2 linked regions of the Homo sapiens genome follow. The protein of the gene in region 2 interacts with the protein of the main gene of each other region in a biochemical or structural test. Each region holds a gene or a part of one and is shown on either strand. Other genes may lie near its edges.

Evidence for each region. Proteins that work in one complex are often made in the same cells at the same time.
Region 1: the proteins of DEPDC1B (region 2) and PTPRF form a complex in vitro, tested with the Homo sapiens proteins (one study listed by BioGRID).

What each region holds. Positions count from the first base shown.
Region 1 is NC_000001.11:43,603,870-43,610,899, forward strand, and holds part of PTPRF (receptor-type tyrosine-protein phosphatase F isoform 1 precursor), read left to right. Parts: coding exon 1-320; intron 321-1,033; coding exon 1,034-1,131; intron 1,132-1,320; coding exon 1,321-1,574; intron 1,575-1,659; coding exon 1,660-1,753; intron 1,754-2,370; coding exon 2,371-2,589; intron 2,590-2,944; coding exon 2,945-3,099; intron 3,100-4,454; coding exon of another isoform or gene 4,455-4,466; intron 4,467-5,513; coding exon 5,514-5,629; intron 5,630-7,030. UniProt on the Homo sapiens protein: Possible cell adhesion receptor. It possesses an intrinsic protein tyrosine phosphatase activity (PTPase) and dephosphorylates EPHA2 regulating its activity.
Region 2 is NC_000005.10:60,641,140-60,648,169, reverse strand, and holds part of DEPDC1B (DEP domain-containing protein 1B), read left to right. Parts: intron 1-636; coding exon 637-772; intron 773-2,550; coding exon 2,551-2,678; intron 2,679-3,294; coding exon 3,295-3,425; intron 3,426-5,310; coding exon 5,311-5,358; intron 5,359-7,030.

The DNA.
Region 1 (7,030 bases), on a different chromosome or scaffold from region 2:
GGAGATCAGGACCCCCGAGGACCTGCCCAGCGGCTTCCCCCAAAACCTGCATGTGACAGGACTGACCACGTCTACCACAGAACTGGCCTGGGACCCGCCAGTGCTGGCGGAGAGGAACGGGCGCATCATCAGCTACACCGTGGTGTTCCGAGACATCAACAGCCAACAGGAGCTGCAGAACATCACGACAGACACCCGCTTTACCCTTACTGGCCTCAAGCCAGACACCACTTACGACATCAAGGTCCGCGCATGGACCAGCAAAGGCTCTGGCCCACTCAGCCCCAGCATCCAGTCCCGGACCATGCCGGTGGAGCAAGGTGTGTGCTGTGGACATGGCATCCCTTCCCGAGTGTGGCTGCATCTGGGGGTCTCTGCTCTCCTTGAGCCACTGACCTCTGGCGACTGTGATCCACCAGCCTCTGGTGTGTGACCTCCAATCTCTCATGACTGTGACCACTAACCTCTAGTGAATGGGCACCACATTCTTGATGCCTGACCTCTGCTGTCCTTAACCTACTGACCTCTGCTGTATGACCTTCTGATCTCTTGTGACCTTGACCCACTGATCTCTTTTGACTGTGTCACTATTCTTGGGTGTGCAACCTCCTGATCTTTGGTGTGTGACACTAATCTCTTGGGGCCATGACCCACCGACCTCTAGTGAACATGCTCCACCACGCTCTGGTGTGTGGCCACATGCTTCTCATGACCGAAACCCACTGACCCTCTGATCACTCTGGCCTGGTGTCCATCGGCTCAAGCTTTTACACTCGCGTTTCTGGAGATTCTGACCCTGGTTGCTGTGGCATCCCCCGCCCTGTTTGGTGCTCACTGTGGAAGAGCTTGGGCTGGGAGTTCAACTGTGCCGTTTGAAGCTGGCTGGGAGTGGGGCGCTTGGTACTCTGCAGCCATCCTTCAACCCCCTGTTCCCCAACCAGTGTCTCATCCTGGCCATTCACCTTCCACCCTTCCAGCCCATTCACCCCACCTCATATACCCAGCAGAGCTGACTCTCTCTATGCCTTTGCAGTGTTTGCCAAGAACTTCCGGGTGGCGGCTGCAATGAAGACGTCTGTGCTGCTCAGCTGGGAGGTTCCCGACTCCTATAAGTCAGCTGTGCCCTTTAAGGTGAGTAAGGGCCACGGCCAGCTGAGCCTGGCACACACACAGGCCTGCTGGGTGCTGTCTTTCCAGTCCTAACCCATGTGCATCCGGCTGTGGAGCAGGAATGTGGTTGTGTATCCGTGCACTGTGCCTTGCAGCCCGTGGTAGGGAACCTCACCCAAAGGCATTGATTGCCCCTCCCGTCCCCCACAGATTCTGTACAATGGGCAGAGTGTGGAGGTGGACGGGCACTCGATGCGGAAGCTGATCGCAGACCTGCAGCCCAACACAGAGTACTCGTTTGTGCTGATGAACCGTGGCAGCAGCGCAGGGGGCCTGCAGCACCTGGTGTCCATCCGCACAGCCCCCGACCTCCTGCCTCACAAGCCGCTGCCTGCCTCTGCCTACATAGAGGACGGCCGCTTCGATCTCTCCATGCCCCATGTGCAAGACCCCTCGCTTGTCAGGTGTGCACACGAGGTATCGGGGGAGGCGGGGCAGGGCTGGAGGTAACCAGCAGTGACAGTCCTGATTCCTGCCCTGCCCACCCAGGTGGTTCTACATTGTTGTGGTGCCCATTGACCGTGTGGGCGGGAGCATGCTGACGCCAAGGTGGAGCACACCCGAGGAACTGGAGCTGGACGAGGTACCTGGGGAGGGGATGGGGACACTGACAGCCCCATTGCAGTGGTCAGCTGTGGCCTTCCTGCCCTGAGCACTGTCCCAGTGACTCTCAGATTCACTCCCCAAATTGAAATCTCTCTTCTGGCTGGCAGCCCGCCCCTCTCTGGAGAGAGGGACTCTGAGGAAACCATCTGGGAGTATTCACAGAACTCCCGGAGGGCTTACGAAGAATCCCTGGGGTGGGATGTCGTGGAGATGCCTCTGCAGGTCTAGAGAATGCCAAGCCCTGTAGACACTGCAGAGCCTCGCAGATCTAGAAGCTATGGAGGGCTTAGTGAGCCTTATAGCCAGGAGTCCCTGAATGTTTGAAATCCTTCAGTCCTTTCTCATAGCCAGTGTGGCAACAGCCTGGTTAGGGTGGGGCAGCTTACACACAGGGCTGCTTCTCATGGGCTGGTGGGGAGGAGTGGCTTCACGGTGTCTGTTACTCTGTAGGGGCAGTGGGTTGGGCAGGTGTGGGCTCTGACACGGAAGGTGAGCCTTGATCTCGGCCCAGGGAGCTGACATCCCAGGCCACAGCCTCAGGGCTGGCCGGCATGCTCCAAGGCCCCTCATGACCCCCATGCTCTGCTCTGCCAGCTTCTAGAAGCCATCGAGCAAGGCGGAGAGGAGCAGCGGCGGCGGCGGCGGCAGGCAGAACGTCTGAAGCCATATGTGGCTGCTCAACTGGATGTGCTCCCGGAGACCTTTACCTTGGGGGACAAGAAGAACTACCGGGGCTTCTACAACCGGCCCCTGTCTCCGGACTTGAGCTACCAGTGCTTTGTGCTTGCCTCCTTGAAGGAACCCATGGACCAGGTCTGCCTGAGCCGGCTTGGCTGTCAGCACCCTGATTCCCTGGGCCTGGCCTGAGACGATGCCAGTCTCAAACACCACAAGACCCCAGGTCTTTATCAGTTTGGGGGCTTCGAGATCCTGGGGCAGCACTAAAGACCCAAGATCTGTCCCGGGGATCCTAAGACGCGGCCCTGGGACCCAGAGGCCAGACCTAATGTGGCTCCAGGGACCCAGTCCTGCCAGGTCCACCTTGTAGGGTCTGGGAGACCAGGCCCAGGGTAACCCAGACCCAGAGCCCTTTCTCCAGGATTAATAGGCAGAGGGTGGGGGGTTCTCACGCTGAGCTCACAGCCTGCTGTTCTCCACCGGGCCACAGAAGCGCTATGCCTCCAGCCCCTACTCGGATGAGATCGTGGTCCAGGTGACACCAGCCCAGCAGCAGGAGGAGCCGGAGATGCTGTGGGTGACGGGTCCCGTGCTGGCAGTCATCCTCATCATCCTCATTGTCATCGCCATCCTCTTGTTCAAAAGGTGAGCACTGCCCTCAGAGCTCCGGGAACGGCCACCTGCCCCTCGCCTTTCAGGCCCTCTCCGGGTGTGGTGCCTGTGGAGAGCGTGCAGCCTTGCATCCTGGACCCTGAGCCTCAGGCTCAGCAGGAAGGCAGGAAGGGCAGGAGCAGTGTGTGTGCCTACCTGTGTCTGCAGGCCTGCATCTGTCAGGTGAGGGAGCCTCTGCAGCAGCCTGGGCGTGAGGAACTAAAGCCTCAGAGGGTTGTCTCATGTGCATCCCTGGCACGTCTGTCTGTCTCTGTGTTTCTGTGGATAAGAGTGCGTCTGTCTCCTCTTCAGTTTTAAGACACCGCCATCTCCTGAGCTCCTACCTCGAGTCCTTTCCTTCTGCCACCATTCCTGGATGATTCCCCAGCCCTACTCTCCTGCTTAGGCCTAGAGAGGTCGAGCTGGAGGCCCACAGGCCATGGATGCTCACTAACAGACATGACTGATGGCCTGCTGTGCCCGTGCCATCCGCAGCGGCCTCAGCCTCAGTGTGTCTTTCCCACTCAGTTCTCTATCGGCAGTGGCCACCACCTGCCCTAGGAGTCTCCCTTCCTATCCGTGCACCTTCCAGCCTGAAAGGGATTTCCAAAGATTTAACTTTGTCACTCTCAGTTTAAAACCTTTTGATGGCTGCCCACGTAAAGCCCACCCTCTTTAGCCTGACAGCCAAACACCTGGCTAATCTGACCCCTGCCACACTCCTGACATTGCGACACTGAACTCATTCAGTGTTCAGGCCCACACAGGGTGTGCCCTCTGCGGATCTCCCTCCCCCTGCCCACTTGGCAACAGCAATCTCATCGTTCAGGACTCAAGTCCATGCTCTGGTGCCTGCAAGGCCTTGCCTGGCCCCTACCCCTTCCTTGCACAGCTGTCCCCTGTGATGCTCCACTGCAAACGCAGCTGGGCCTGTGTGCCAAGCCTTCAGCCCCCAGCACTGGGCTGAGCCCACAGGCATGTCAGTGAGCACCTGGCAGATGAAGATATGCTAGTCTGTGTGTCTGAGCACATCTCTGCACCATGCAGGAGAGCCTGTATCCTGTGTGCCTACCCTGGACCCACTGTTCCTTCCTAAAGAGTCCACTCCTTCCTCCCAGGGTGGATGGACCTGTGGGCGGGTCCCTAAGGAGTGTCCCACAGATGCACTCATCCTTCCCACTTCCACCTGCATTCTGGGTCTGTCCAGAGAGGTAGACCCCCTCCCTGTGAATGTCATGTGGGTGCCATATAAGGGGCCTGCAGGGTCCCCATGTCATTAGAGGGCTGAGTGCTTGGTGGAAACTGTGACCGTTCCTTTCTTCTGTCCTTGCTTGTCTTTCGGGACCTAGTAAACAAGAAAGGTAGGAGTTGTTCCTTCTCTCTTCACACACCTCCCCCTCTACTTCTAATCCTTGGGCCAGCAGGGAGGGATGACGCTTTGACCAGAAGTCCCCTGGCCTATGGCTTTAAGCAGCAAACTGTCCAGTCAGCTCAGCAGGCTCCCTGGTTCAGGACTGAGTCCTCATTGGTGTGAGGAGGCAGTTTCTGTCTCACTCTTGCCAGTTCAACTCTGCAGAGGATGCTTCTTCTCTGGGGCACATACATAATACAGACTGCATTGCTTTCCCTGAGCGTACAGAGCTCACCAGAACCATCACCCGGCTCCCAGTTCTCTGAGAAGTTGCCTAAGTGCTGCGAGAGACAGTCTCGCACAGAGCAAAGAGCAGTCACTGTGTGGAACAGCAGAGAGGCATGTCCTTGTACCCACCTGAGCACACTCACTCAAATTCTTCTTTCCGAAGCACATGCGTCTGCAGACCACAAGTAGCCTCTGGCTATTTGTTGGCAGCTGAATCCTATGGTCTGTCTCTGACCCTGTCCTTGTAGATGGGAAAACTGAGGCCAGTGAGAGAGGACTCTGCCCAGCTAGGGTGACGCCTTTCCCGTCCCTCCCCTGCTGCCCTGGGCATTTACCCTGATACTCTGAGGGCCAAAAAGCTGGGGCCCTGTCTCCTGTGCTGTTTGTGTATTTTATGTGTCATTTGCATGTTTGTTCCCGGTGGTTCCTGCTACTCAGCTGGGTGGCCTTGGAGATAGCAGTCACTGTCCTGCAGTGACCTGCCTTCTATCCAAAGGAGCTGCTCGCCCCTGCAACCCCTTCCTCCCTGCTGCACTGCCCCTCTGCTCACGCCACACTCCTGCTCTCCCTACCCCCTCCCTGCCCTGTGTTCTCTCATGTCAAGGCTGTTCTGGCCCTGGCTCCTCCGCGCTCAGAGATCCTGGGAAGAGGTGGGGCAGTAGGAGGACAGAGCCGTGGACATGGGGGCTCCTTGGCAGCCAGCCATGCCATGTGTCACTGTCTCAGCCTGGACCTCAGGTTCTCACCAGCCTCCCTTCTGTCTCTCTAGGAAAAGGACCCACTCTCCGTCCTCTAAGGATGAGCAGTCGATCGGACTGAAGGACTCCTTGCTGGCCCACTCCTCTGACCCTGTGGAGATGCGGAGGCTCAACTACCAGACCCCAGGTAGGGCACTCCTATGGCCTGTGTGCCCCCAGCCCAGACCTAGCAGGCCTGTGGGTCTGTTCTGCAGGTCTCAGGGTCGCCACTGAAGTTCCTGGGCCGCATGCACTTGTTCCTGCTCCTTTTCTTCCTTTCTGCCCTTCTCCCTGTGCTCATCCACTTTGGTTGGAATGACTGGGGAGCCCCCATATCCTGCAGCTGGACAGGTGCCCCAGGCCAGGACCCTCTTAGGTGGCAAAGCCACTTAGCCACTGCCTTGTCTTCAGTCAAGGCCTCTGAATATGGGCTGAGGACCTCCCAGAGCCCACGTCTCTGCCACAGGGTGGCCAGTGTCTGGCGCACGCTCTGACGCCTCCACATGAAAGAGGGGCATGTTAGCAGTGGGAGATGCCTCACCAGACATCTGTGGGGAGATGAAGTGCCTGCACCTGAGCCTTCCTGGAGGCCGACCCCAGGTTTACCATACCACGTACCTGCCCCTTCTCCTAGCCACTCTCATGGGGCTGTCCACCTCTTCCTTCTACCTGAAATGTTACTCCTCCCAACACCCAGCAGACACAGCTCAGACCTCTCCTCTTGCCCACACCCCCACAGGGTTAGGTGTCTCTTCTTGGCTCCAGGAACCTCCCTCCTTCTTCCTTTTGACGCCTCTCACAGTGAGCTGGGATTACCTCAGTGACAGTCTCTGAGCTCTGTGGTGCCAGGAACTGTGTCTTGTCATCCCCCATCCCTTGTATTCAGCGCACGATGGGTTCTTGTTGAATGCCTGTGAAATGAACACACAGACAAATGAAGGAATGAGTGAACTAATGCATACACACAGGGTTTGTGTATGTATGAGCTGGTTATTCTGCATGTCAAATTACCCCAAAACTTAGTGGCTTAAAACAACAATAATTATGTATTATCTGTCACAGTTTTTGTGAGGCAGGAATTCAGACAGGGGCACAGCAGGAACAGCTTGTCTTTATTCCAGAAAGTCTGGGCCCTCAGCCGGAAGACTTGAAGGCTGGGAGCTAGAGTCATTTAAAGCAGGGGTTGGCAGACTATGGCCCGTGGCCAAGTACAGCCCACCACCTGTTTTTGTAAATAAATTTTTACTGGCTGGGCGTGGTGGCTCATGCCTGTGATCCCAGCACTTTGGGAGGCTGAGCCGGGTGGATCACCTGAGGTCAGGAGTTCGAGACCAGCTAATGAAATCCCATCTCTACTAAAAGTACAAAAATTAGCCAGGTGTGTGGCCCCTGTCATCCCAGCTACTCAGGAGGCTGAGGCAGGAGAATCACTTGAACCCAGGAGGTAGAGGTTGCGTGAGCCAAGATCGTACCATCGCATTCCAGCCTGGGTGACAAGAGCAAAACCCCATCTCAAAAATAAACAAATAAATAAAATTCTACTGGAACA
Region 2 (7,030 bases):
TTAGGCAAACAGAGGAAAGACAAAGCACTTTTCCATATTTGCTTCAAATGGCCTTTAGCCCCAAAAAATTATGTCAAAGAGGAATGTTTTGAGGTGACACATTCTGTTTCCTTCAGTACTCTCGTTGGTGAGTCTCCAGATTCACCTTCATATAAACTTCCCTTGAACACTATAGACATTTTATAATTCTTTATTTCTGCATTTGCTTTGAGATAAGGTCTTTAGTTATTTGTATGATTTTTTTCTGTGGATAACATGGGTAAGATTTTTAAGCTGTTTTTTTGGCTTAAGTAAATAAAAAGTCAAAATAAAAGTCAACAACCCGCTGCCTTTTATGTCAACATTAAGAACTAGAGTTCTTACATTGCTTTTGCAGTGCAATGTAATGCATTGTATCCTTTTCTAACAAGACTGCAGAAAAATATTATCTGATAAAAAATATGTATTCAATCACCTTTCTTTTCTTTATCAGGTATGGTATAGAGCAGTTTAAAAAATTAAAATTTATGTAATTATTGTATAAATATTGTACAAATTATTGTATAAATTTTCAGATACACCAAAGTGGAGACTATTGTTAAAATATCTGTGTCTCCCACTGACTGCAGTAATAGAGAATTTCTTCTTGGGTTTTAGATTTCCTCCTTCTTCACCCCTGAAACCATATCCAAAGAAGCCCCCAAACCAAAAGGATGTTATTAAATTTCCAGAATGGAATGATCTCCCACCAGGCACTTCACAAGAGAACATCCCAGTGAGGCCAGTTGTGATGGTAAGTGCCATGACTGAAAGATGGAAGGGCTGGCAGCAGGGAGAATCATCCATGAACTCCTAGGCTTGGTCTTTCTGTGGTCCTTTATGAACAATAATTTAAAGGTACTTTAAAACAAAATTGTACCTGCCAACAGCTGGGAGACCAGTAACAAGGAAAGAATGACTCTTGCAGTTTTTCACTCTTGCATGTAAATAGTTGTTGTACTGTATTGTTTAGGGCAGCAGTCCCCAACCTTTTTGGCACCAGCGATGGGTTTCATGGAAGACAATTTCTCCATGGACCAGGGCTGCTGGGGTGGGGGTGGGGGTGGTTTCGGGATGATTCAAGTGCATTACATTTATTGTGCATTTTATTTATATTATTATTACATTTTAATATATAATGAGATAATTATGCTACTCACCATAATATAGAATCAGTGGGAGCCCTGAGCTTGTTTTCCTGTAACTAGATGGTCCCATCTGGGGATGATGGGAGACAATGACAGATCATCAGGCATTAGATTCTCATAAGGAGCACACAACTTAGATCCCCCAGATGCACAGTTCACAAAAGGGTTCACGCTCCTATGAGAATCTAATGCGGCCGATCTGACAGGAGGTAGAACTCAGGCAGTATGTGAACAACAGGGAGCTGCTGTAAATACAGATGAAGCTTCACTCACTTGCCCAACGCTTACCTCCTCCTGTGCAGCCTGGTTCCTTATAGGCTATGGACTGATACCAGTCTGTGGCCTGTGGGTTGAGGACACCTCGTTCAGGGAATAACAAGAAGAAGAAAATGCTACATGTTCAGTACAGATGCAACCATCCATTTTTTTCCTCTGAATATTTTCAATCTGTGGTTGGTTGAATCCATAGATGCAGAACCCATAAATACAAAGAGTCAATTGTATATGGCAGCTGTTTTTATATGTTCAGACTGAGCAGGTTTCTGTTAAAACTCTCTTGTAATCCCCTTTTCCTGTACATTCTATAACTTACTACTCTTCTTCCTCTTTGTCTCTTCCTCCTAAACTGTTATTATTGCCAGTTGAGGGTAAGAAGGTTAGGATGTGGAATATTGTGTACTAGCCCCTGACCAAATATATAAGCAAAGGTAGATTCTTCTAGTCTTAGAAAACCGAAGCTCATTGTAGAATTGACTGCCTCTTTTTTTCACATTTTTTCCTTAAAATACCCCCAGTAGAAGACCACCAGGACTGAGGTGTAATGCTAAAAAGCAAACAACAAAAAAATTTCTGTTCCTTTTGCCATCTTCAGCTGTCCTTGTGGAGCCTTTTGCAGATGGCTAAGATTTGGGGGCTACTTTCGAACATTGCACTTACTTGATATTTGCTTATAAAAAATAGACAGTCCTCAAAAGTAATACATTTTAATTCCATTTTCAATAATCAGTCTGTACAGTGTATGAATTTAGATATGTATTCCTTAATTTTGAATTGATAACATTTTATTTCACTGCTATTTCACTGATTAGTTGAAACGTCCACAGGAAAAATTAGCTAGTTAATGCCATACTTACTGCCATAGCTCTTTTGTAATTCATGAATATTCATTTATAACATGACCTAGTCTTAAGAATCACTCTTTACTTCTCTGAGGTCCATGTAAAGAAAGTTAGTTTATATTTCTAATTATTATTTTAAATCAAGTTACAAGTAACCAAATCAAAGACATTTCTCATAAAAATCCCACCACCTTATATTGAAATATTTATTCACTGTCTTTCTACCGTTTCTCCTTCCCTCCCTTCTTACATCCCCCCTCCATTAGAATTCTGAGATGTGGTACAAGCGTCACAGTATTGCAATTGGAGAGGTGCCAGCTTGCCGTCTTGTCCACCGCAGACAGCTGACAGAGGCCAATGTAGAAGAGATATGGAAGTCTATGACATTATCATAGTATGTACATTTGATATTAATGAGAAATTTTAGAGATATTGTTTCCTATTTTGCTACTTCTTCACTCTCTGCATATTTAATTTTCTGAAATTATGTATAAAAATCTCAACTTTGCATTATTTGCAGTTGTGATCAGCAAACATAGTTTAACTGAATTCTGGGGATTATCTCCTGCTATTTACATAATAGTTAGGAGTTTAAAAGTTCTTAAGAGTAATAAGACACATAATAGAAAATTTGGTCTCCTAGATACTGATGTACTGTATGTATAAAGTTAACAATCATATACAGCAAAATTTTGTTCCTCATGAAGATATGCTAATAGTAGTTTCTTATCATTGGATAAGTTAGTTTTTATGTTGTAGTATTTTTACTTACAAAATTACTTTCTTGTCATTTGGTGTGTTACTAAATCTGTGAAGCAAAATGTTAATAGCAAAAGGATATCTTTTACATTTGTTTTATTGTACTCCATTTCTACCCTTTTTGCCCCGCAAAGATTGGGTGCAATGCATGAAAATAAAGCATTATAAAGATTGATTTTTTGTAGTACCAGGTTTTTGAGTAAATATAATATTAAAGACAGAACTAATTAATATAATTACTTATCTTTTAGCTTACAGAAAATTCTTGGCCTGGATTCCTTAGAAGAAGTTTTAGACGTCAAACTTGTCAATTCGAAGTTCATCATCCATAATGTATATAGTGTTAGCAAGCAGGGAGTTGTTATTCTTGATGACAAGTCAAGTAAGTGCATAAATATAATTTTGTTACTTATTGACATAATATATTGGCTGCACAGGTCCATCAGCTCCTTTCTGACCCTTCCCTAAACCCTGAATAAGTTTGTTCCTTCATTACGTATATTCTTTCTAATACCTTTTAACAAATTGTTTGGAATAAGGGAATGTCATAGGAAGATGAGTATCTAGGAATGAGAGCCTCAGCAAAATCCATCCAGAAGCTAGTTCAGTGTTAGCCACCTTGGGCATTAAGTGGTTTCGTATTCCCAGGGAAATCTCTGAAAAGTGAGAATATTCAAGACATAACCAAGAGTTAGAGTCAGTTTTCAGGTGGGCCCTGGGGTCTGACTGCATTTAGAATTCTCACGTTTTTGTTTTGGCTTCTCTGTGTTAGATTTTCTGGAATAGTCTTGGTTCTTTTTAATAAGGTAGTTTTTGAAATGTTGATATTGCTTTGATTTTTTATATTTCCCACCCTAGACCAGTTTACAAATCAGAAAAAACAAACAAACAAACAAACAAAAGAACCATATAACAGCCACCTAACATGGTTTTTGGTTTGTAAAAATGTGGTTAGGGTACTGATAGTGGACCACAGTCCCCACACTGATTTTAAATCTTTCTGTGGATAAGGACCAGATTTGGATGGGCTCATTGATTTGTTCTTCCTTTAGTTCAAACCCTCGATGCTGGGAATTGGCTGGAACTTGATGATCTTTGGATGTGGGAAGATGGCATAATACTTCTTGACTTTTTAAAAATATGATTAAATTTAGGGCTGGAGGCTCCTGGGAAGCAGACAGAATGTAGCAGAATAGCCTGAGCAGTGGTGAGAGGGGAAGAGATTTTTCTATGCCATGTTTCCTGACAGGAGCAGAACCTGTCTTCAGACCTGAAACACTTCTCCTTTTATAGTCACTATATGAGGAATGGAGGACAATGAGAGACAAATAAGTTTGTGGTGACTTTATGAGTTTTGAGGTTAATATCAACATATAAAATTAAGTTCCATAGAATGAAGGGAAGAGTGCAGCCTTTGAAATACATCTAAAATTCTTCCACATTCTCTGAGTGTAGCAAATTAATATTTTTAGTTATCAGTTAGATGATCAATCATCTTTCATTTTATTAAGTAAGATCTTAAGAAAGAAGAGAGCATTTTACAAGACTCCAGTTCATTAGATCTAACACAATTCAACAAGTGTCTTCGCAGTTTTACAGAAATAGAGAAGATGAAGTGGCAGCCTGAGTGCTAGCCCATCTCATCAGATGTCTGTGGCAGGGCGTGGAGGGAAGAGATTCTGTACCAAATGGTTCAGCTGGGATTTTTTTTGTAGCAATGTTCAGTTACTATTATTTAAAGGTTGTCCTAATACTAATAGCCTAACATTAATATGTCAGTGGAACTTTCTTGGCCTAAAGCATTTTGAAAATGGAAACATGTAAAATGATACTTATATTGGACCTACAGAATTACCCTTTTTGAGGGGCTGGTGGTGTTTGATGAACTTGTTTCACAAATGTGTTTGACGACTAATATTTTTTCTTTTCTTTTTCTTTTTGTAATTCTTAAAATAATTGGTTTGTCTTTTGGTTTGTTTGTTTGTTTGGAGCAAACTATACATTTTTTTCTTTTTACTATAGCTTTAAAAAGGTGCATTGTGTCCTTAGAGAAATCTGTAGGCATTATTTATGTAAGTGCATGTTATAACACTGCTGACAAGGAAAGGTTTCCATCTTTTAAATGTTCTAATAACATAAATTGGTGATTTGTGATTAGCAGATATGGTTCATATTACTTGGGCAAGTAATACATTCTTATGATACCAAGTATGTATATGATGTCTTGAGTTATATGGAATTGAGTACAAATTTTCTTTTTCCTTCAGAAGAACTTCCTCATTGGGTGCTGTCAGCTATGAAGTGTTTGGCAAATTGTAAGTACTAATTATCTGCCAGTTTTGTGAAATTAACAGAAATTAGTGCCCTAAATTAGGAAAAATTTCTGCTCAATGGCCTGAACATTGATGTGACACCTGTGAGACTGGCAGTTAATTATTTTGGGACTACTGTGCTTTTAGTGATAAATTTGTGACTTAGTGAAAGGACTGAATTCTAGAACAGTTTTAAAGGGATTTAGTACTTCTACTTTCTAGTAGATCCATCCACACTAGTTCTAATTGCTTCATCACAGGATGAAGGATGGTTTGGAAGGAGAAGAACCTGCCATGTAGAGAAATGAGAAAGACTGTTTCAGTAATTTGGATGTTAGATGAGAGGGCCTGGACCAGGGTGGTCCCTGTGAGGATTTTTATAGGTATATGAAATCCATTTCATAGGCATGTGATTTCCATATCATTGAATATCATAGGCACTGTGAAGGCATTAGTTGTTATAGTATCTCAGAAACACTACCATTCTTCTGGGAATTTTCACAAGGGTTAACCCAAAGAAGGGATTCTAATGATTAATGGCTTAACCCAAACAAATAATTTTGATGGAAAGAGTTCTAGTTATTTTGGCTGACTGATAATAGTGATATTTGGTCTGGAGTGCCTTTTGAGTCTCACAGATACCACAAGGTAGTAGTTCATTTTCATTTCTTTTGTACGGAACTAGCACTACAGATATAGGTGAAAATTCCCTTTAAATTCGTGAATTAGTAAACCCTAAAACATGGGTTTAACTGAAATTAGTTTTGTTTGATTATAGAATGAAACTAAAATAACTCTTAAGCTTAATGTGGGGAATCTTAGTAGTAGTATATGGAACATGATCCTATGATTTTGAATAGCCTTTTGAAGATGAATGCTATTCATTCATTCTATACTATCCTTCTGTATATGAATAGTAACCATTGGTTTGTGTGAAGCCCAAGGTTCTCTGAGTTTAACTGTTAACATTTTCATTGGTTTTTGGTTAAAATTTGGAGCCTCTGAGATGCAGAGTACTATGGTCTTAGCTTGGGGAAGTGCTTTTTTTTCTTCCTGCTCAGGCATTTGAAGTCAATGAAATTTAAATTACATCCTTGTCTAGGGTTGACAATGATGAGATAGAGAGTATAAATGAGAAGTTAAACTTCCCATTTCTGAACTGGCAAATCAAGGTTTTAGAAGTTCATCAGGCCAGGTGCGGTGGCTCACGCCTGTAATCCCGGCACTTTGGGAGGTCGAGGTGGGTGGATCACAAGGTCAGGAGATGGAGACCATCCTGGCTAACATGGTGAAACTCCGTCTCTACTAAAAATACAAAAAAAATTAGCTGGGCTTGGTGGCGGGCGCCTGTAGTCCCAGCTACTTGGGAGGCTGAGGCAGGAGAATGGCATGAACCCGAGATTGTGCCACTGCACTCCAGCCTGGGTGACAGAGCAAGACTCCGTCTCAAAAAAAAAAAAAAAAAGAAGTTGATCAGCTAGGAATGAACATAGGAAGCTAGTATAACCAATCTAGTCTGTAATATGTTGTAAAATATATAGTAAGATGTTTATGATGTTGAATTTTCAATGATTACTGAAATGTAGTAAAGAACATAATTTTCCCTCAAGCAGCATGTGCACCGAAAGCCAAAAAATTTCTGCAGAAAGCTTAGAATAACTGGAATTTCTTATCA